2 separate regions of the Homo sapiens genome follow, and region 2 is linked to region 1. The links come from fine-mapping of genetic effects on gene expression. A gene starts in region 1. The other region holds a variant in brackets. All regions are shown on one strand. Distances are from middle to middle. Region 1 holds the start of CHCHD5 (coiled-coil-helix-coiled-coil-helix domain containing 5). Region 2 has its middle 57 kb from the start of FBLN7.

Region 1 (10,778 bases):
ACTAAAAAAATTAGCCAGGCATGGTGGTGTGCACCTGTAGTCCCAGCTCCCCAGGAGGCTGAGGTGGGAGTATCGTCTAAGCCTGGGAGTCGAGGCTGCAGTGAGCCGTGATCACGCCACTGCACTCCAGCTGGAGTGACAGGGTTTAAATCAGATGGCCATACTTGTGCGGGGCTAATTTATTTTGTATTATTTCATTTTTATCTCCTTTGTTGGCTTATTAACCCTACCTCCATTTTCATTTTTTGTTGTTTCTCTTAAAATTTCTAGTGTACATCTTTAGACTTGTCACACTTTTATGTAATATTCTACCACTTCACAGGTAGTAGAACAACTTAGCAACAGCACACACTTTCCTGTCTCTTGGCCTTTGTGCTATTTTGTCATAAGAGTTATATTTACTGTATCTGGAGATCTTGATTTCATATGCCAGATTTCCATTTTCCTTCGAACTGAGAGCTTGCTTCAGTGTTTCTGAGCTTACTTAGGTGAGACCAGAGCGGCCATTAGGGCTAATTTTGCCTCACTAGACAGGCAGTATCTTTGAGTAGTTTAGCCAGTGCACAGTGATGGTCTCCACTATGGCTCCGGGGATTGCTCTGCCTGCACCTTCCTGGTAGTTCCCTTGGTTTCCAGGAGTGTGTTCACAGGCATGCTGTGCGCTACACGTGCAGGAAACCCTTTGCAGGTCTGTGCTGCGCTACTCTCTGGTACCCTGCCTTACAAACTAGCTGCCTTGGCCTCTCCAAATTCTCAACTTTGTCCCAACTCAGGGACACCCCTGGGCTATGTAGCCTAGAAACTAACTCTCCAGACATAAGCCGGGCCACTAAGGTCACTTCATTTGTCTCCTTTCTCTTGGGGACCACTGTGCTACAATGCTTGTTTCCAATGTCTGAACTCTGTTGTCTCCTATTTTGTCCAGATTTTTTAGTTGTTGATGTTTGAAGGATAAATCTACTACCTATGACATCACCACACCCGGGTAACTTTTGTACTTTTTGTAGAGACAGAATTTCGCCATGTTGCCCAGGCTGATCTCAAACTCCTGGGCTCAAGCAGTCTGGCCACCTCAGTTTCCCAAAGTGCTGAGATTTATAGGCATGAGCCACTGTACTTGGCCTATGTTTCTAACGCAGAAGCCACCACCGTATGCCACACCTGTGACTCTTTCCCATATTTGTTGTAGTAAAAGGGACTGCAGGCCAGGCGCTGTGGCTCATACCTGTAATCTCAGCACTTTGGGAGGCCGACATGGGCGGATCACGAGGTCAGGACTTTGAGACCAGCCTGGCCAATATGATGGAACCCCGTCTCTACTAAAAATACAAAAATTAGCCTGGCGTGGTGGTGCGCACCTGTAGTCCCAGCTATTTGGGAGGCTGAGGCAGAAGAATCGCTTGAACCCGGGAGGTGGAGGTTGCAGTAAGCCGAGATTGTGCCACTGCATTCCAGCCTGGGTGACAAAGCGAGATGCTGTCTCAAAAAATAAATAAAAATAAATAAATAAATAAAAGAGGCTGCAGTACATGACACACTGGCAGCACCAACTCCTGCCTGGTGGATGACATCTATCTTTAGACATCCCCACTCCAGGGTTGCTGGGGGTCCATCACCATTGTTGACACTTCTTACAGGTTATGATGTTATCATCAGTCCCAGTGCTATCAGTCAACTCTACAATCCTAGGTAGTCGTTGAATCTACAGTTGACCCTTAAACAATGCAGTAGAAAATCCACATATAACTTTTGACTCCCCCAAAACTTAACTATTAATAGCCTACTGTCGATCTGAAGTCTTACTGATGACATAGATGAACACATATTTTGTATGTTATATGCATTATATACTGTATTCTTGCAATAGTAAAGTAGAGAGAAGAAACTGTTATTAAGGAAATCGTAAGGAAGATAAAATATACTATTCATTAAGTGGAAGTGGATCATCATAAAGGCCTTCATCCTTGTCCTTTTCACATTGAGTAGGCTGAGGAGAGGAAGGGGGGTTGGTCTTGCTGTCTCAGAGTGACAGCGGCAGAAGAAAATCTGAGTATAAGTGGACCAGTACAGTTTAAATCCATGTTGTTCAAGGGTGAACTGTAAACTGTTTGATTTAATGGGCAACCCACGCACCCAAGTGGTTATAAGTGGTACTACAAAATGTATTATAAAAATACCGTAGAATTTTTTTTTTTTTTTTGAGACAGAGTCATGCTCTGTCACCCAGGCTGGAGTGCAGTGGTGTGGTCTCGGCTCACTACAACCTCCGCAGCAATTCTCGTGCCTCAACCTCCTGAGTAGCTCCAGGACTACAGGTGCCTGCCACCATCCCTGGCTAATTTTTTGTATTTTTTGTAGAGACACGGTTTCACCATGTTAGCCAGGCTGGTCTCGAACTCCTGACCTCAAGCGATTCGCCCACCTCGACCTCCCAAAGTGCTGGGATTACAGGCGTGAGCCACTGCACCCAGCTGAACACAATCTGTACCTTCCATGTACTGATTTATGTCTTTGTCTGTAACTCCTGTCCACCTAAAATGTACAAAACCAAACTGTAATTCTACTGTCTCAGGCACACTTTCTCAGGACCTCTTGAGCCTGTGTTCCCCAGGCCATGGTCACTCATATTGGCTCAAAATAAATCTCTTTAAAACATTTCAGTTTGGTTTTTCTGTTAACAGGTGGTTAATTTTTCCTAGTTCTTTAATGAGATCCCTAGAAACCGGGTTTAAGACAATTGATTTTTTTTTTTTGCTTTCTCGGTCAGATAATTTCAGAAACTCCCTCCCTGTGCACCTGTGGGCATTCCCACTTCCACACACCAACAAGACAAGGTTAGACAGATCTTCTAAGGCAGCTTCTAAGGCCTTTCAGCATGTCAAAATGCATCTTTGGGGTATCCGTTTCTGAGTACCAACAAGGGAACGGAATGGGTTAAGATTTCATTCTCTCAGTAGAGGAAAATCTAGGGATTCATTCTACATTTGAAGCCAAAAACAGTTATCTGACTCCTTCCAGAGCCTTTAAATGTTGATCCCTTCCCCTCTTCTCCCATCAAACATACACTTGGAAGTTTAAGAAGAATGGAGGGATCTCAAGGTGTAAAGTTTTCTTTCTGTGCGATGACCAGTGCTGGTCCTCGGATGTCAACTGCCAACCAGGGTAGCTCATGGTTACAACCTCCCGTACAGCTCTCACTTATCCAGAACTACTGAGGCTCCAAGCTCAGTATCAAACTGTTCACTTGCACTATGTCCTCTATGATGTCACTGTCATCATCATTTTACAGACACACTGCGACTCCAAGTGGTCGTTACTAGTTCACAATCAAGTAGCTCTCGTTCATCTTCTCGTTCATCTTCAACTCTATGATTAACTGCAAAATGTTCTGCTCATTTTGACTAGAGTCTTGAAAGATCTGCAAACGAAACGGCAGGACTGATGCTCAGTTCTCTGACCAGGGGATATCCAGTCTCTTATGTGGGGAAACTCACGCCCAGGTCTAACCTCACACTTTTAAGACAGATGAGAAGGAAGGGGGAAATGTTGCTACATTAGGAGGAATTAATTACAAAGAGAGGAAGTAACTAGCTTGATAGTCTCATGGAGTCAGGATTAAACGCCATGTCTGTCCTGGCGTACGCTAAGGGATGGGGAAACGTCTGGGTCCCAGGCTGGGTAAATGGCAGGCCCAAGCCGAATTAGTTCGGCTCTTGGTTTGACTCCCTCTTCCCTCCTGTTCCAAGCGCTCGCATGAACCTGGGTGCCAGGGGGATTATCAGCGTCTGCGCAAGGCCGATGGTGGCAGCGCGGCGTTAGGAATCAGGCCCCCTATCCCTGAGCCCAACAGCCTACCGCTACAGCACCCAACGAAAATGGGAACAACATGTTGAGACGCTGCAGCAACAGCAGGCGCTTCCCACCAGCTACAGTCGGAGATTTGGAGCGCTTGTGTCTGAGGCTCAATCCCGTCAGGTGCCGCGCAACTCAGCGGCGCATTCTCTTTGGACCCGAGGCACCACCATACTTTCCATTGCTTACTTCCGTTAAACCCCGAGCGCTGCCATGGCAAGCCGGAAATAGGGATGAAGCAATTTAGCCAGAAGAGGGCGGAAGTGGCTACTCAGGGCGCCGCCATGACGAGCCGGGCCGGAAGAAGAGGTAGGGCGCCGCCGTGACAGATTAGTCCTAAAGGGAACGGGGTTGTTAGTTCAATTGGCTACCGGAAAAAACCAGGCTGGGCTGGGCGCCGCCATGACAACCGATACCGGAAAAGGCGGGTCGTTCCCCCCGGACAGCCCTACGCCGGCAAAGGTCTCGAGATGTGAGTAGTGAGAGCGCCTACCCCATACGTGCTGCCGCTCCCCTTCTTTTACCCAGTGATCTAGACCTAGTCTAGGACCTCGGGAACTAGGACCAGCCTCCCTCCTTCTTGGAGATCTGACCCTCAGGATTCAGCGCCTTCGCTCACGAGCTCCAACCCTCCGCATGCCCAAGCCCCGCCCTCTAAGCGTTTAGGCCTCGCCCCCTCTCGCGCTGCTTAGGACTTCGGTCCAGTCACTCTTCACCCAATCTCTGCCCCCAGTACCCCAGGTCCGGCCTTCACACTGAAATCCTAAGACTACAGACTTATTTAGGGACCTCTATGACTCCTACACCCATCCTCAGAGCTCCAGGTTCCTCCCCCTTGATCACCAAACTTTACCTTTTGAACCTTCCAGATCTGCCTGGGACCCCAGTCCTCACCTATAGGGTCCACAGACTTGTTCCTAGACCACTCTGACCTTGCCCAGGATTCCCAGAGCACCAACCTCATCCAGGGCTTCCAGACTTCACGCCCCTGGGACCTTGAGTCCCGCACCAGGGCCTTAGGTTTCATCTTGAAGACTCTTTGGCTAAGACACTCTTCCCCAGGACCTGAGACCCCACCTCTTGGAGCTCTAAACCTCACTTTTAGAACCCCCAAACCCATTAAGGGCTCTCAAGCTCTCCCTGGAATTCTAGATCTTTCTTCTAAGGCCCCAAGTCTTCTGTGCATGATCCCCAGGCCTACTGGGGGATGCCTGGATTTCAAGGCCTGTCTTCTAGGACCCTGAAGGCCTACCTTACATTAATCAGACTTTGTTTTAGAACCTCCACTCTCTCCCCAGAAGCTCCCCTCCTGCTTTACAAGCCCCAGGGCTGGGCCTCACCTCTCCACTTCTTTGGCACCATCTCAGGATCCTTCAGATTCCCACATCTGCCCTGAACTCCTAGTCCTACTTCAGACCCAGACCAGAACTCCCTTTCTTTGCGGAGCACCATAGCTTATGCCTGTAATCCTAGCACTTTGGGAGGTCTAAGCAGGGGGATCGCTTGAGCCCAGGGGTTCAATACCAGCCTCGGCAACATAGCAAGACCCTGTCTCTACAAAACATAAAAAATTAGCTGGGCATGGTGGCTCATGCCTGTGGTCCCAGCTACTTAGGAGGTTGGGGCAGGAAGATCACTTGAATCCAGGAGTTGGTGGCTACAGTGAGCTATGATCGTGCCACTGCACTCCAGCCTGGGCCACAGTGAGACCCTGTCTCTAAAAAATAAAAAAAAAAAAAAGAATTCCCTTGCTTGCCTACTGCCTGGAATGATCCTCAGCCCATCCTGTCCCACAGGCAGGCGGCCCTAGAGGTCACCGCTCGCTACTGTGGCCGGGAGCTGGAGCAGTATGGCCAGTGTGTGGCGGCCAAGCCGGAATCCTGGCAGCGGGACTGTCACTACCTTAAGATGAGCATTGCCCAGTGCACATCCTCCCAGTGAGTGCGGGCAAGTATGAGACAGTGTGGGGGGTGGGCAGTGGGGTGGGAATCTCCCAGGGGCTGAACTGCCCTACCCCCACAGCCCAATCATCCGCCAGATCCGCCAGGCCTGTGCTCAGCCTTTTGAGGCCTTCGAGGAGTGTCTTCGACAGAACGAGGCAGCTGTGGGCAACTGTGCAGAGCATATGCGCCGCTTCCTGCAGTGCGCTGAGCAGGTGCAGCCGCCACGCTCACCTGCAACTGTGGAGGTAAGAGGGGCTCACCTCAGTTCATCTCTTTTCTCCATAACATCCCCTTCATCCTTCTGGTTGTTCAGGGTAAAGACTTTGGAGTCATCCTCAGCCCCACCCCATCACCACACAGGCCTTTGCCATGCATCCAGAATCCAGAACATCATCACTTCTTGCCCCATATAGCCCCTGCTTTAATCCACCACCACCCTCACCCTCCACCTCCAGGATACCTGCCCCAGCCTTCTCCCTGGTCTCCCTTCCTCCCTCTTTTCTTGCCTCCATAAAGCGGCCTGGGTGAGCATGTAAGGACTGAAATCTGGTCTCATCACACCTATGCTTAAAGCTCTCCAGTGGCTTTGTGTCACATTGAGAACAAAAGTCCAGGTCCTTGCTGGGTTCTCTGTGTTCTTCCCTAGGCTGACTTCATCTGCCTCCTGCCTCACCCTCTCTCTTCTTTCTCACTACTCCTCATCTGCAACTGCAGAGGGGCTGGGCTGGGGTGGCCAAAAAAAGGTCACTCTTTTAAATGTATCTAATATGTAAACCAGATATACAGTATATCTGTGATATGTAAGTTTCATGGTTGGGCAATTAGAACAAAAGTCTAAAATGACTCCTTGAGGAGAGGCAGTAACGGAAAAAGGTTGAAAAATGCTCTTTTAGATGTTTACTACCCTCCTCACTGGACTGTGAGCTCCAAAGGTGAAAGTCACATCTTTCCCCAGCCCCTGTGAGTACCCTCTCCTGGGGCCCTCTCTCTGCCCCTGCAGCCCTGGCTTCTCTCTTGGGCCACCTGGCCATCCTTCTCCTGGGCCCCATGCTCCATCTTGACTTTCCAGTCATTCTTGGTGATCATCCTAGACTGATCTCAGAGGAAATCTGACCATGTTCTGCTTCTACTTACAAACCTTTCCATGGTTCTCAATTCCACCAGCCCAAGTCTTAATGCCAGCACAGCCCACAGGGCCCTGTGGGATGCAGTCCCTGCGACCCGTGGTCCCACCTCTCCTCTCTTTCCCCCTTAAGCTCTATGTTCCAGCCCCAGTGAACATGCAGTTACTCAAGTGCACGTCTCCGCTGCTTTTGTCCAGCTGTTTCCCTCTGCTGGGACTGCCCTTCCTAATCCATCTCCTGGCTAATTCCTATTCCAGCTTAGACGGCACGTCTCTCAGAAAACCTCCCTGATGTCCCACCCACTTCCCGCCCCTGTCTTCAAGTTCCCAAGGTCCCTGAGCCCCTCCATCAAGGCTCACATCCTATGCCTGTGTCAAGGGAGCTCTTGGCTGAAGATTGGGGTGATGCCCTTCTTACCAGGCCCTATAGGCATTAATTGTTTCTGTAAGGCAAGGATAAGTGAATAGTTCAGACCCCTAGGGCAGAAACTACGACCCCTGAGAGCCGGAAGGAACTTAATTCTCCTCAGGAAACGTTACCTAACGATCACATACTGTTCTCAGTCAGCTGCTGGGGACATTTCTGTCTTTCAAGTTTTTTGGGCATCTGAACAGTAAAGACCCCATCCTCCTATCTTAGAGCCATTTGCTGCTTCCCTCCCTGGACCAGCAACCAGCCTCTCTCTGGTCTCCTTGTGGCCACCCCTGCCCTGACAGTCTTCTCTTCCCTGGCAGCCAAAGAAGCTTTTAAAAATGGGAATTAGGGCCGGGTGCGGTGGCACATGCCTGTAATCCCAGCACTTGGGGAGGCCGAGGTGGGTGGATCACCTGAGGTCAGGAGTTTGAGACCAGCCTGGCCAACATGGTGAAACCCCATCTCTACTAAAAATACAAATATTAGCCAGGTGTGGTGGCAGGTACCTGTAATCCCAGCTACTTGGGAGGCTGAGGCAGGAGAATTGCTTGAACCCAGGAGGCAGAGGTTGCAGTGAGCCAAGATTGCACCATTGCACTCTAGCCTGGGCGATAGAGCGAGACTCTGTCTTCCAAAAAAAAAAAAAAAAGGGAATTAGGTCACATCTCCTCATCATCCCCTCCTTCCTGGGGATGGCATCCCAGTTACAGTTTTTCCTTCCTAGCTAGGGGCAGTGAGATTTGTTGTCTGGTCTACACAATAGCGAACACAAACATTCTCATCTCCTGCAGCATGGCATACAGACTTTACAGAATGTCCTGTGTTTTTGTGGCTGACAATCAAAGTGGTACATGTCCCTCCCATTCCGCACACACCTCTGCTCTTTACCCTGATTAAATTTTCTTCATCGAATTTCTTGGATGTTGACATATTTATTGTCCGTCTCTCCCTGCTTGAGTCAGAGAGTTTTGCCTGCTGGGTACACGGCAGGTGCTCAGTAAATATAGCAGAATGGCGCGTTCCCTGCCTCCCATGACACTTCACCACAGCTGACTTTTTCACATGGCTCAGGGCCAAGGTCATTGCCCAACACCCTTCTCCCTCCAGACTGTGGGCTCTGCAGGGTCTCCCTCTGTGGTGTCTACATAGGCTCCCCAGGCTGGGCACAGAGGAGGTGCTACTAGATGTTGATGTACTTTCTCCACAGGCACAGCCACTTCCTGCCTCCTGAGGACTCCTCTGACGGCAGGAAAACTGGACATGAATGACTGCCCCCACGCCCCTCCCCTGCAGAGTGGCCAGATGGAGTCCTGAGCCCTGGACATGGGCCCGGCTTTCCTGGATATCAGGACTTCCAATAAATAAAGACTCTGTATACTGGGCTTTGATTCCTGCCATCCGTACCTGAGAGGGTCCTAGGAGAGCTGGCTGGGCAGAGTCATCTGTTCCCCAGCTTCACCGGGTGTGCCAAGGAAGTGCCTGGGAAGAACAGGACTCTGCAGCTGTGCCCCAGGGTTGAGACTACCCTGCCTCCCTTGTGAACTCTGCCACACAGCCATTTCCTGACTTCTGCTGCATGTGCCTGGGGTAAAGACCCTCAATCCCTTCCACTCTAGCATTCCCCAAATTGTTATTTTTTTTTAATATATATATTTTTTATTTTATTTTTATTTTTATTTTTTTTTGAGACAGAGTCTCGCTGTCGCCCAGGTTGGAGTGCAGTGGCACGATCTCGGCTCACTGTAGGCTCCGCCCCCCGGGGTTCGTGCCATTCTCCTGCCTCAGCCTCCCTAGTAGCTGGGACTACAGGCGCCCGCCACCTCGCCTGGCTAATTTTTTTTTTTTTTTTTTTTAGTAGAGACAGGGTTTCACCGTGTTAGCCAGGATGGTCTCGATCTCCTGACCTCGTGATCTGCCCACCTCGGCCTCCCAAATTGCTGGGATTACAGGCGTGAGCCACCACGCGCAGCCTATATATATATTTTAAAGACAACGTCTTGCTCTGTTGCCCAGGCTGGAGTACAGTGGTGCGATAATAGCTTACTGCAGCCTCGAACTCCTGGGCTCCAGTGATCCTCTGCCTCAGCCTCCACAGTAGCTAGCACTACCGTAAGCACTTGACACAGTGCCTGGCTGCATTCTCCAAATCTGTTTTCAGTTTTCTGGAGGCTTGGGGGGTGATAAATAATATGCGTCTTTCCCTGCTGAATTCAGAATCAACTGGGCAACAGAGGCATTAGGCAATGGAGATGAAAATACTGGCTTTATTATTGAAAACAACCACATGGAAGGATGTATGGCTTAGAAGGCCATGTACTGGATTTCTTTTCTTTCTTTCTTCTTTTTTTTTTTTTTTTTTCAAGACGGAGTTTCACTCTTGTTGCCCAGGCTGGAGTGCAATGGCGTGATCTCGGCTCACTGCAACCTCTGCCTCCTGAGTTCAAGCAATTCTCCTGCCTCAGCCTCCTGAGTAGCTGGGATTACAGATATCCGCCACCATGCCTGGCTAATTTTTGTATTTCTAGTAGAGATGGGGTTTCACCATGTTGGTCAGGCTGGTCTCAAACTCCTGACCTCAGGTGATCTGCCCGCCTCAGCCTCCCGAAGTGCTGGGATTACAGGCACCGGCCGCCATGCCCGGCTAATTTTTGTATTTCTAGTAGAGACGGGGTTTCACCATGTTGGTCAGGCTGGTCTGTAACTCCTGACCTCAGGTGATCTGCCCACCTCAGCCTCCCAAAGTGCTGGGATTATAGGTGTGAGCCACCGCTTCTGGTCTATGCACTGGATTTCTGTTCTTAGTTTCCAGTTTTCCAGAAGCCAACTCAGAATTTGAGTGCAGATGGTAATTTGAATTTGATTCCAGAAACACTGATAGAGGAATGGAGAAGGGAGACAATAGAGAGGAAGGCAGCCAATAAAAGGTGCATTATCAAGCGAGTTACCACTCTGGGCAACTGGGACTCAGTCCCACTGGGGACCTGTGGGGGACTTTATAGAACATAACCCAGTTACCCTATCAAGGAGCAAGGGAATTGTGTTATCTACCAACTTCCCATCTGTCATTAAGGGGTATTTTCATGGGCATTGACTGGTACTTCTGGCCTGCCCTTTATAGGCCAAGTTCACTTCTGCCATCAGAAGAGGGCCGTAAGCAGAGTATAATGGGATCAAGTGAGCAGCCTTAAACCTGCGGAAGAGATGCTGAGTGGATCTGGGCAGGTACCAACAGTGGCTGCTGTGGCTTCTTCATGCTTCTCAGGAATACAGGCTCCTGCTGTTTGATACAGGCTCCCCAGTAGGGACTGGTCCTAAAGAATAGAAAGCAGACAGGCGTGTATGCAATAGAGGAGGAGACCCCAGAGTGCTGAGCTGAGCATGCCCATGGCCTGCACCCACATTCACCATTCAGACGAGGCCCTCCTCCCTGGAGGTGATCCCAAAC
Region 2 (10,778 bases), 390 kb before region 1:
ACAATGAACACATGGCCAACTTGTTTCATCTGCTATCACCCCACCTCATGATGATTCCCAATCCTATCATTTCATCTATAAATATTTTAGAATGTATCTCTAAAAGACAACTTTTAAAAAAAGGATAACCAAAATGCCATTCACATCTAAAACATTAATTCCTTAATACCTTTAAATATTCAGCCATCGTTGACATTTCTCTGAGTGGCTTATATTTTTTTGTTTACTTGCAGTAGGTCTATGCACTGTGATTTATTGATATGCATTTTAAGCCTTTTTTTAATCTGTAGCAGTGGGTCTCACACTTCAGCATATATTGGAATAATCTGAAGGTTTGTTGGAAGACAAAATATAGGGTCATTTATATTGTAGAATTTTTCACAGTATGAGTTTTTCTGAGTGCATCTCTGTCTTCTCTATTTCTTATAAATCTAGAGAGTTAGTCAGATTCAAGTTAGATTTATTTAGGCAAGACTACTTTATTGGTGGTGACAGATGCTTCCAGTAGGAGGAGCAAAATATCTGGTTGCCTCTCTTTTCTGATGTTAGCCCCCGCAGATTGCACAGATCCATTACTTCTGTAGGGATTGCAATTAATATTCTAGTGCTATTGATTTTTTCTTTGTTTATTAGCTGACATACTTTATAAAGAGAAACACACTCTCATCAGTTATTTGGTTACCCTGAGATTTGGTTTGTATAAGAAAAGTAGGATTGATTCTTGGCTTTCCTCCCTTTATTTTTCAGTTTTCAAAATGAGATGGTTCACAGGCATCTTTCCAACATGCCCTGTGAGAGTTGTTTTCTTCTTTGAGTACATTATGAACTCATGGTTGAAACATATCTGATGTTATCATGTGTGTTATCATCTGTATTAATAGTAATTACAGCTACTGTCTTTGTTTTTGCTCAAATTGTTCTATCTTTGGTTCTTGGGAGCTGCTTCGAGGTGGCTGATTCCTTTTGACATGACCCTAGTAGTCTTTTTCATCCTGTATATTTTCTGCCCCTGCCCTGAAATCAGCTGTTTTCTCCCAGTAATCCCTGGTTCCTTCTAGTGGGGGATGGTAATTAGACATCAAGGTCTGAGTGCTCAGAGTGCTCATTGGTAGTGGTTACATCATAGTTTCTTGGCTTTAGTGGCTAGAGCTAGGAAATATGTATTATTAGTATTTTTTAAGATAAAACACTACATGAGTTCATGCTGATACTTCCAATTTAATTCAGGACTACTGTGGGTTTTTTGTTAGTTAGAGGGGAGAACTGGCATAGGGACAGGGTCTCTCTGTGTCACTCAGAGTAGACTGCAATGGTACAACCATAGCTCACTGCAACCTCAAATTCCTGGGCTCAAGCGATCCTTCCACCTCAGCCTCTGAGTAGCTGGGACTACAGGTCCATGCCATTATGCCCAGCAAATTTTTATTTTTTTGTAGTGTTTTCGTTTTATTTTATTTTATTTTATTTTTGAGACAGAGTCCAGCTCTGTTGCCCAGGCTGGAGTGCAGTGGTGCAATCTTGGCTCACTGCAACCTCCACCTCCTGGGTTCAAGTGATTCTCATGCCTCAGCCTCCTGAGTAGCTGGGATTACAGGCATGCACCACCACACCTAGCTAATTTTTGTATTTTCAGTAGAGACAGGGTTTTGCCACGTTGGCCAAGCTGGTCTCAAACTCCTGTCCTCAAGTGGTCTGCCCGCCTCGGCCTCCCAAAGTGCTGGGATTACAGGCATAGCCACCGCGCCTGGCCTTGTTTTCATTTTTAACATAGCTTCATTGATCCTCTATCTGCTCTCTTTCTCTCATTCTGAAAACCTCCTTCTAAACATCACCAAAATAACTACACATTAAAAAAAATTCTTATAAGAACAATGCCAACCTTAACACACAAATGTGATAACTAAAAACAGCTAAAATCATTTTTTTTCTTCAATTCTTTGTGTCCTCAGCATTTATGCGATTAGGGACAGACAGTCAACTTACTGTTGTAAAGTTACTTGGAATGGTTCCCCTCTCTGTGGCATGCTCCAAACTAGAATCAGGATTTACTGATTATACCTCCTTCATTTTCCTGAAATTTTTAGAGATTGCTTTTTAATTTTAACTTTGTTTTATAATTATGTAAACTATTTACATGGTTCCAAAGTCAAATCTACAGAACAAAATGTATTCAGAGTTTATCTTCTGACCGGTTCCCTCCACCCTATTTCCTGCTTCTCTTCTGCTGTAATCAAATTTCCCCTTTTATCCTTCCATTTAAGCAATATAAACAAATGATAAATGATAGCATGCTATTTCACACTTTCCTGGACCCTTCTATTTTGCTTAAAATATTGGCTGTCACTCCATAGAACCATATAGTATGTTTTCCATTGTAATGCTTCATTATGACAGCATACCATTGTTTATTCGACCAGTCACTCCTGATTGACATTTGGGTTGTTTCTAGCCCTTTGCTATTAAAAATATTGCAGCAATATGCATATGTCTTTTTGTATTTTTGCCTTTGTATCTTTAGGGCCAACTTTTCCTCTGTAAGAATTATGTTATTTTCCACCCCCAACAGCAATGTATGAACATTCTTGTTCCTGAATCAAAGAAGGCCCCAGTGACGCCTCCAGTTCTCACATCTGCCCCACCCACCAAACCCTCCTTTGGAAGGACAGAGAGGCCTGAGTGGAGGGGTATTCTACAGCTAGCCCACCTGCCTGACTTGGGTATCTGGGTATCAGTCAGCTGCCACCAGGAAGAGACAAGAGGCAAGCCAAATAGATCCTGGGCACTTGAGCAGTAGAAAGTTAGCTAGGATTCTGGATGGGTTTTAAAAATCACTTTTTAAGAATTATTATACCTACAACACTAGCAAACGAAAAGAAAAATAAGCCAACAATGAAATACCACTGCAGAGTCACAGTCAACTTGATGGGTTTGTTGGGAGTCTGAACATGTGCTCAAGGAGAGAGGAAGTCCCTCGAATGGGTTGCTCACTTTCCACCAACCACTGCCTCAGCTTTACCAAGCTCTCACTGCAGGGATGGAAAGATAAACTTTTATGACTCTTAGCTTGTACATATGAAAATCTCTAAGTGTTTATGAGCTGCGTGAATATTCCTGAATGTCTAGTGCGTTCCAGGCACTGTTCTACTTGCTGAAGTTACAGTGGATAAGATTGCTGAAGACACTGACTTCATGGAGCTTACATTTTGGCAAGGGGACAGAAAATAGATGTGTAAATGAAAAAACGTGTAATGTCAAAGAGGGATGAGAACTACAAAAACAAAAGCAGTGAAAGGTGTTTGTCAGTATATAGTAAATGTATGTGTAATATATGTAATTACAGTCATCCCTTGGTATCTGCAGAGGATGGGCTCCAGGACCCCCCATGGATACCAAAATCCATGGATGCTCAAGTCCCTGATAGAAAAATGGCATAGGGCTGGGTGCGGTGGGTCACACCTGTAATCCCAGCTCTTTGGGTGGCCAAGGCGAGTGGATCACCTGAGGTCAGGAGTTTGAGACCAGCCTGGCCAACATGGTGAAACTCCATCTCTACTAAAAATATAAAAATTAGCTGGGTGTGGTGGCACATGCCTGTAATCCCAAGTACTTGGAGGCTGAGGCAGGAGAATCACTTGAACTCAGGAGGTGGAGGTTGCAGTGAGCCGAGATAGCGCTGCTGCACTCCAGCCTAGGTGACAGAGCAAGACTCTGTCTCAAAAAAAACCAGAAATGGCATAGTATATGAAGAGAGCCTATGCACATTCTCTTGCATAATTTAAGTAATCTATAGATTATTTATAATATCTGATACAAAGTGAATGCTGTATAAATAGTTGCTCTACGTTTTAAAACGTATGTTATTTTTATTCCTTTTTTCTGAATATTTTTGATATGCAGTTGGTTGATTGTGCAGAACCTGTGGGTATGGAGGGCCAAATGTATATCATCCACGTCACTTGGGTGTTGCAAACACCGTAATCGTGTGCAATGACAGTTGGATCCCATATCCTAGGAGTTTGGCCTTAGGACTCAGAATCTCTCCTGAGTGTTTGAATGAGGTAGTGGTGTAAAGCTTTGGATGGCCATATTGGGCTCATGTGCACAAGGGAAAGACAACTTGTCTACAAACAGAACAATGATGCTGATGTGGGAAGAAAGGAAACAATAGAACATAGGGCTTGGAAGGATAGAATTTAATTTTGTGTTCTGCTTATTGCTGCATAAAATATCCCAACACTTAGTGGCTTAAAACAATTATTTTATTATGAATTATCATGGATTCGGTGGGCCAGTAGTTCAGAGAGAGCACAGGGGAATAGTTTCTATTTGCTCCACAATGTCTTTGCTTCCCTCAGCTGGGAAGACTCCATGCCTGGGGGCTAGGGTTACCTAAGGGTCACTCACATGTCTGCCTGGGCTGGGATGACCTAAAGACTAGGACCGATAACTGGAACATCTACCCTTGGGCTCTCCATGTGGCTTAGCACCTAGAACAGTGTGTGTAGGACACAGCAGACATTCAGGAATATTTATGCAGCTCGTAAACACTTAGAGATTTTCATATGTACAAGCTAAGAGTCACAAAAATTCATCTTTCCTTCCCTGCAGGGAGAGCTTGGTAAAGCTGAGGCAGTGGTTGGTGGAAAGTGACCCATTTGAGTCTGACTTCCTCATATCTCTCCTTGGGCACAAGTTCAGACTCCCAATAAAGCCACCTCTGAGCCAGGTGGCCTCAGAGTAGTTGGGCTTCTAACACAGTGGCTCGTGTTACTAGCATGAGTGTTCCAGGGAACAATGTGGAAGCTACGTGGCCTTTTAGGACCCAATCACATATTGTTACCTCCACCATACTCTGTTGGTCAAAGTAGTCACAAGAAGCCACTGAGTCCTGGGAGGTGGACATAGGCCAGTGAGTACTTACTAAATTGAATTGAGCTGAGAGGTTTCAAAGGATTTTAGGGCCAATTTTCAAAACGCCACTCCTGGTTTCCTGTTTGGGTTTCCAGTGCCTCATGCAACCTGGCTTCCCGTCAGTGGGTTTTATCAGATAGCCCTGTGTCCTTTCAGTCTTCCTTTGCATGCATTCTTTTGGGTGTTCTTTTCAAACAAATGATTTCTGCCTAAAATAAAACTTACCCTCTAGTTCAGAAGTAAGATCTCCACATCTGTCACAAGGGGATACTTTGAACAATGGTAGAAACAGAGTGAGAAATCCAATGTGGGTGGTGCTGCAGGTTCACCAAGGTCAGAAGTTGGGGGAAAGGGATCACTGGAAGAGTCAAGACCAATTCATGGAGAAGTTGGCACTTGATTCATGGAGAAGTTGGTTCTTATTAGAGGAAGTCTAATGAGAAACTTAGGCCACCCTTTGTCACAAAGAGGATTTCCAACAAAACACAGCATTGGCCAGACCACAGAAATATTAGCTGACTTGCAAACAAGAGACTATGATGATGAAAATTAGATTTGGGCTGATGGGATTTTCTGAATCTGACCACGTTTAATGAGAAATTAGATCGTAGCAATCTAGTTTCTTAGCTCAGGGAGCGCTTTAGATGCATTCTTTAGGGGGAAAGTGTGCTCTGTCATATACCTTGCTTACTTATGCCAGGATTCACCTCAGCCATGCGGTGGCACTTACGCAATAGCTTGCCTTCCTTTCTTATGGTTGGCTGAGTGGCCAGACATGTTTCTGCAAATAAAGATCTCTGCCTCTTTGACTCGTTTGTCCACCTGACCCAGGCAAACCTCCATCATAGGAAGAGTTCACTCCTCACCCCTTGCTGGGGCCCTGAGTGGCAAGGTAATTTACTGCTCCCATTCCTTCATTCCTGTCCAGCTCCCAGGGGGTGCCAGACCTGGGCTTGAAAGCTGTAGGAGGCAAGAACATTGCCCTCTAGGGAGTCTTTCTCATACTAATGCTGGACTTGCTGTTATGTGAGATAACGTGGTTATGATTTAAGTAGGTTTCAGATGGAGTTCTTGTTTGCAGCCGTTCTAAGCATCCCTACAGACCTGACCTGCTGGCATCCCAGCTCCACAAGAGCAGGCATCTTGTCTGCATGCTCACTGAGGCAGCTCCAGTGCCAGCCTGTCCTGTGGGCAAGGTGATGGACAAGGCACAAAACAGTTGGCATTTGTGGTAGACATTAGCAAATTTGGCCTAATACTTCCTCCTCTCCCACCTCTGGGCCCATGATAGGCTGGCACTCTGTGCCCTCGTGGGAGGGCATGTCACTG[A/G]GACCAGTGGTGGCTCAGAAATGGTGCCAGTCTCTTCCAGGCCAAGGAACTCACAGATGCTGGGACCCCCAGAGTTCTCTCTCCTCTCATATGGCCAATGGCCCCACTCAGTGTGGAGGTTGCCCTGTCAGCTCAGGTGTCTGAGTGATCACAGTGAACTGCTGATCTATGAGGCACAAAAGCATGAGCAAAAAATGGTTCTTTGTTGTTTTAAACCACAATGATTTTAAGGTTGTCTGTTGCTCCAGCATAACTATCCTGACTGACTCAGGGCAGAAAGGGAGAAAATAAAATGACAAGATCCCTCTATCATTGATGGGGAGATTATGCTGTGGACTGAGGAACAGAACACATTTGACTCTGTGCACCTGCCTTACCCTTCCCCCAAAATTAATTTCTTCTTCTTCTTCTTTTTTTTTTTTTTTTTTTTTTTTTGAGACAGGGTTTTGCTCTGTCACCCAGGCTGGAGTGCAGTGGTATATTCTCATGCCAGTGCAGTGGCATGTTCTCATGCCACTTCAGTCTCCACCTCTCAGGCTCGCACGATCCTCCCACCTCAGCCTCCCAAAGTGCTGGGATTACAGGAGTGAGCCACAGTGCCCAGCCTGATTACTTAAATTGCAAAACTCAGGCTAGAATGGCCTGTATCAAAGGTTAGAATATCCTTTCCAGCATCATGGAAGAGTCTGATCAGGGCCAGCCTTAGCTCTGTCCCAGCCTCTTGCCTGAGGAGCATAATAGGCTTTGTGTTGTAGGCTGAACTGTGTCTCTCAAAAAGATATGTTTATGTCTGTATTAGTCCGTTTTCATGCTGCTGATAAAGACATACCCAAGATTGGGTAATTTATAAAGAAAAAGAGGTCCAATGGACTCACAGTTCTGCCTGGCTGGGGAGGCCTCACAATCATAGCGGAAGGCAAAGGTGAAGCAAAGGCATGTCTTACATAGCAGCAGACAAGAGGGAACTTGTGCAGGGGAACTCCTCTTTATAAAACCATTGGATCTCCTAAGACTTATTCACTATCACAAGAACAGCATGGGGAAGACCTGCCCCCATGATTCAGTTATCTCCCACCAGGTCCCTCCCATGACACATGGGAATTGTGGGAGCTACAATTCAAGATGAGATTTGGATGGGGACACAGCCAAACCAAGTCAATGTCCTAACACCTGGTACCTATGAATGTGATGTTATTTAGTAATAATGTCTTTGCAGATGTAATTAGTTAAGATGGAATCATCATACAATGACTGGCATCCGTAAGAGAAAACACACACACACACACACACACACACACACACACACACACAGAGAGAGAGAGAGAGAGAGAGAGAGAGAGAGACAGAGAGAGAAACATGCAGAGAGAGAGAGAAAAGACAGAAGCAGAGATTGGTGTCATGCTTTCACAGCAAAGGGATGCTGAGATTGCTGGCAATCACCAAAAGCTAGGAAAAGATAAGGAAGGATCATTCCCTGCAGCCTTTGGAGGAAGTGTGGCCCTGTATATACCTTTATTTCAGACTTGTAGCCTCCAGAACTGTGAGAGAATGCCACCTGGTTTGTGGTATTTTGTTCCAGCAGCCCTAGGAAATGAACACACCTAGTATCCCAACCTCCCCTCCAAACACCAGCTGAGGGTAAATCACCTATTGCTGAAAGGGGTCATCCCCATCCTAGGGAACATAGACAGCCACCAACTGCCAACCAGTCACTTCACTTCAAGTCCACATCCTAGCTCAGCCATCCCTTTCTTTGCTAATGATCTTGGAGCAAGATGATGACTTTATTAGTGTAACTGCAGCTAAATTTAAAGCCAGAGAGGAAAGCCATTTTGCAATGAGGGCAGAGTCATACTGGGACATTCAGGGAGCTGATTTTCAAACATCGTGGACTTTTTTCTTTTTCTATTTCTGAAAAAGACATGGACTAATTTTATAACTAGTAATGACATGATTCTACTCACTTCAGCAGTAAAAAGATGAAACAAGGGGCTCAATCAGCATATTTCATAAAGAGATTCATTGACTCCAGGAACAGGAAGGGCTATGGACTCTTAATCCCCACCCTGGATTTGCCTGGAGAACAGCAAACAAAATCAAAGCCATTCTCTCCTCAGAATCTGCAGGATCAAAAACACTCCCTCCCTGAAACCTCCTCTTCCAGGCCTGCTGTCTCCCTCCTCTGTAACAATATTCCTGCAGCAGCTGATTCGGCTCTTACCCCTTTCTGTGGTCTGGATGTTTATGTCTCCCCCAACCACCTAAATTAATACATTGAAACCTCATCTCCAAGGTGATGGTGTTACCAAGTAGGGCTTTTGGGAGGTGATTAGTTTATAAAAGCGGAGCTCACATAAATGGGATTAGTGTCCTTATAAAAGAAACCCAGAGGCTGAGTGCGGTGGCTCATGCCTATAATCCCAGCACTTTGGGAGGCCAAGGTGGGCAGATTGCTTGAGGTCAGGAGTTCAAGACCAGCCCGGCCAACATGGTGAAACCCCCGTCTCTACTAAAAATACAAAAATTAGCCAGGTGTATTGGTAGACACCTGTAATCCCACTACTTGGGAGGCTGAGGGAGGAGAATCGCTTGAACCTGGGAGACAGAGGTTGCAGTGAGCCGAGATTGCAGCACTAACTCCAGCCTGGGTGACAGAGTGAGATTGTCTCAAAAAAAAAGAAAGAAAGAAAGAAAGAAAGAAAGAAACCCAGAGTGTGTCTGCTACCTTTCATCATGTGAGGACACAGTAAAAAGGCACCATTTATGGGTCATGAAACAGGTCCTCACCAGACACCAAACCTGCTGGAACCTTGATCCTGGACTTTCCAACCTCCAGAACTGTGAGAAATAAATTTTTGTTGTTTATTAGTCACCCAGCCTAAGGTAGTTTATTATAGCAACCTGAATGCACTAAGATACACCCTCAGTAAAGCCAGGGAAGCCTCCCTCCACTATAGTCTACCAGTGAGTCAGGCTAACTAATTGGAATCTCTGCTTTTATTAACTTCAGGTGACATTACAGAGCAAGTGAAGGACTATGTGGGTTCCATCTGCATGCTAATTAAAGCCAGGCTCTGCCCTAGGAACCAGGATGCATGACCCACATTTCCTTTTCCTCTTGGACAAACAGAAGGGAAAAAATTATAATCAAGATCAAAAGTGAGTCAAAAGACAAATGGACAGGAATTCCATAGAAATGCCTCCCAGGTCAAGGCGGTCCCCCTGAGAAATTGCCCAGGGTGTCTTTTCTCCTTTAGCATCCCTGCATGCAACTCTCCCTCTTTGCATGGTGACAGACAGTTGTACGGTGGGCAGAGTCATTTCCTGGTGTCCATTTCTCTCATTTCTCTCATCGTCACTTTTCCAGTGACGGAGTGAAAAATTGCTCTATTGGCAGCAAGGCTGTCAGGGAGAACTGAGAGTTGAAACAAGCCACAACTTTTCAACATTGCTGCTCTAGAGCTAACCCATAAATGGCACCCATTCAGAACATGAATGTCACAAATCATCTAAGCATAAACTCTCCTAACACCCACTCACTCACACAGCCAGACAAGAGTACTGACTCTTCCAGAAACTCTCTAGTTTACAAAATCTCACCCATCCCTTCCAGGATCATCCTATGACTTTCTCTGGTCTCAAATGCCCTGTCTGTCCCCAATTCCCTCCTGTTAAGATGTTCCTCAGTTCCTCTCTGCTATGGTTTGAATGTGCCCCCAAATGTTCATGTGTTGGAAAATTAATCCCTCTGCCCTCATGAATGAATTAGTGTTAGCTCTGCCCTCATGAATGGATTAATGGGTTAATGAGGCCTGTGTGGTCATAAATGGATTAATGTCACTATCACAGGAGTGGGTTCGTTATTGAGGGAAGGGCTTTATTATAGAAGCGAGCTCTCTCTGGCTCTCCTGCTGTTGCCCTCTCACCATGTAATGCCCTTCACCGTGGTATGATGCAGCAAGAAGGCCTCACAAGATGCCAGTTCCATGCTCTTGAACTTCCCAGCCTCCAGAACCATGAGCTAAACATTTTCTTTATAAGTTACCCAGTCTGTGGTATTCTGTTATAGCAACAGAAAACAGACAAAGACACCCCCCATATGCAACCTCTTTTGCTGCAGCAAATAGTAAACCTGACTTTGTTGACTATATGTGGGTTCCTGGTGGTCTTTGACTGAGAGACATCAACTCCCAACTCAAGCAACCAGTGCTCTCAACTGCAATCCCTGATCCACTGGAGTGTGGTGATCAGCTGTGAAGTGTGTATTAGGTAATTGGTGGCTAGTACTAATTAAGATTCTCAAGCTTGGAAATAACAAAGGAGTATGGCTTGCCCAGGAGGAACTGTGCAGAGCCATGGGGGACACCTCAGATGTTCGTGGGAATGTCACATAAGGGGTGGCATGTATGCAGCTGGCTTATGCATAGGGAATCACTAGCTACATACTTGGCCATTCTCCTTCATTTCTGCCTTTGTCTGGGGAATTCTCGAATTACCTGAGCAGAAGGACACATCACCTCCATCTATGTTGTTTCATG

The links.
Region 2: its variant is fine-mapped to the expression of CHCHD5 in tibial artery (GTEx, PIP 0.98).

The regions. Positions count from the first base shown.
Region 1 is chr2:112,580,326-112,591,103 of GRCh38, forward strand. It overlaps CHCHD5 (coiled-coil-helix-coiled-coil-helix domain containing 5), which reads left to right and starts at 4,284. Exons shown (of 4, transcript NM_032309.4): 1 at 4,284-4,324; 2 at 5,649-5,789; 3 at 5,875-6,040; 4 at 8,541-8,715. The coding sequence starts at 4,323. The coding sequence ends at 8,564. LOC101927330 (a long non-coding RNA gene) reads right to left here and starts at 4,947. Exons shown (of 2, transcript XR_923204.3): 1 at 4,812-4,947; 2 at 2,662-4,188. RefSeq lists a silencer at 1,967-2,261 and enhancers at 3,493-4,692, 3,959-4,710, 4,008-4,177.
Region 2 is chr2:112,189,725-112,200,502 of GRCh38, forward strand. It overlaps a transcript of FBLN7 not described here. Among named protein-coding and RNA genes, the nearest start is that of FBLN7, 57 kb to the left of the region's middle. The variant A/G (reference allele first, on the strand shown) is at 6,241.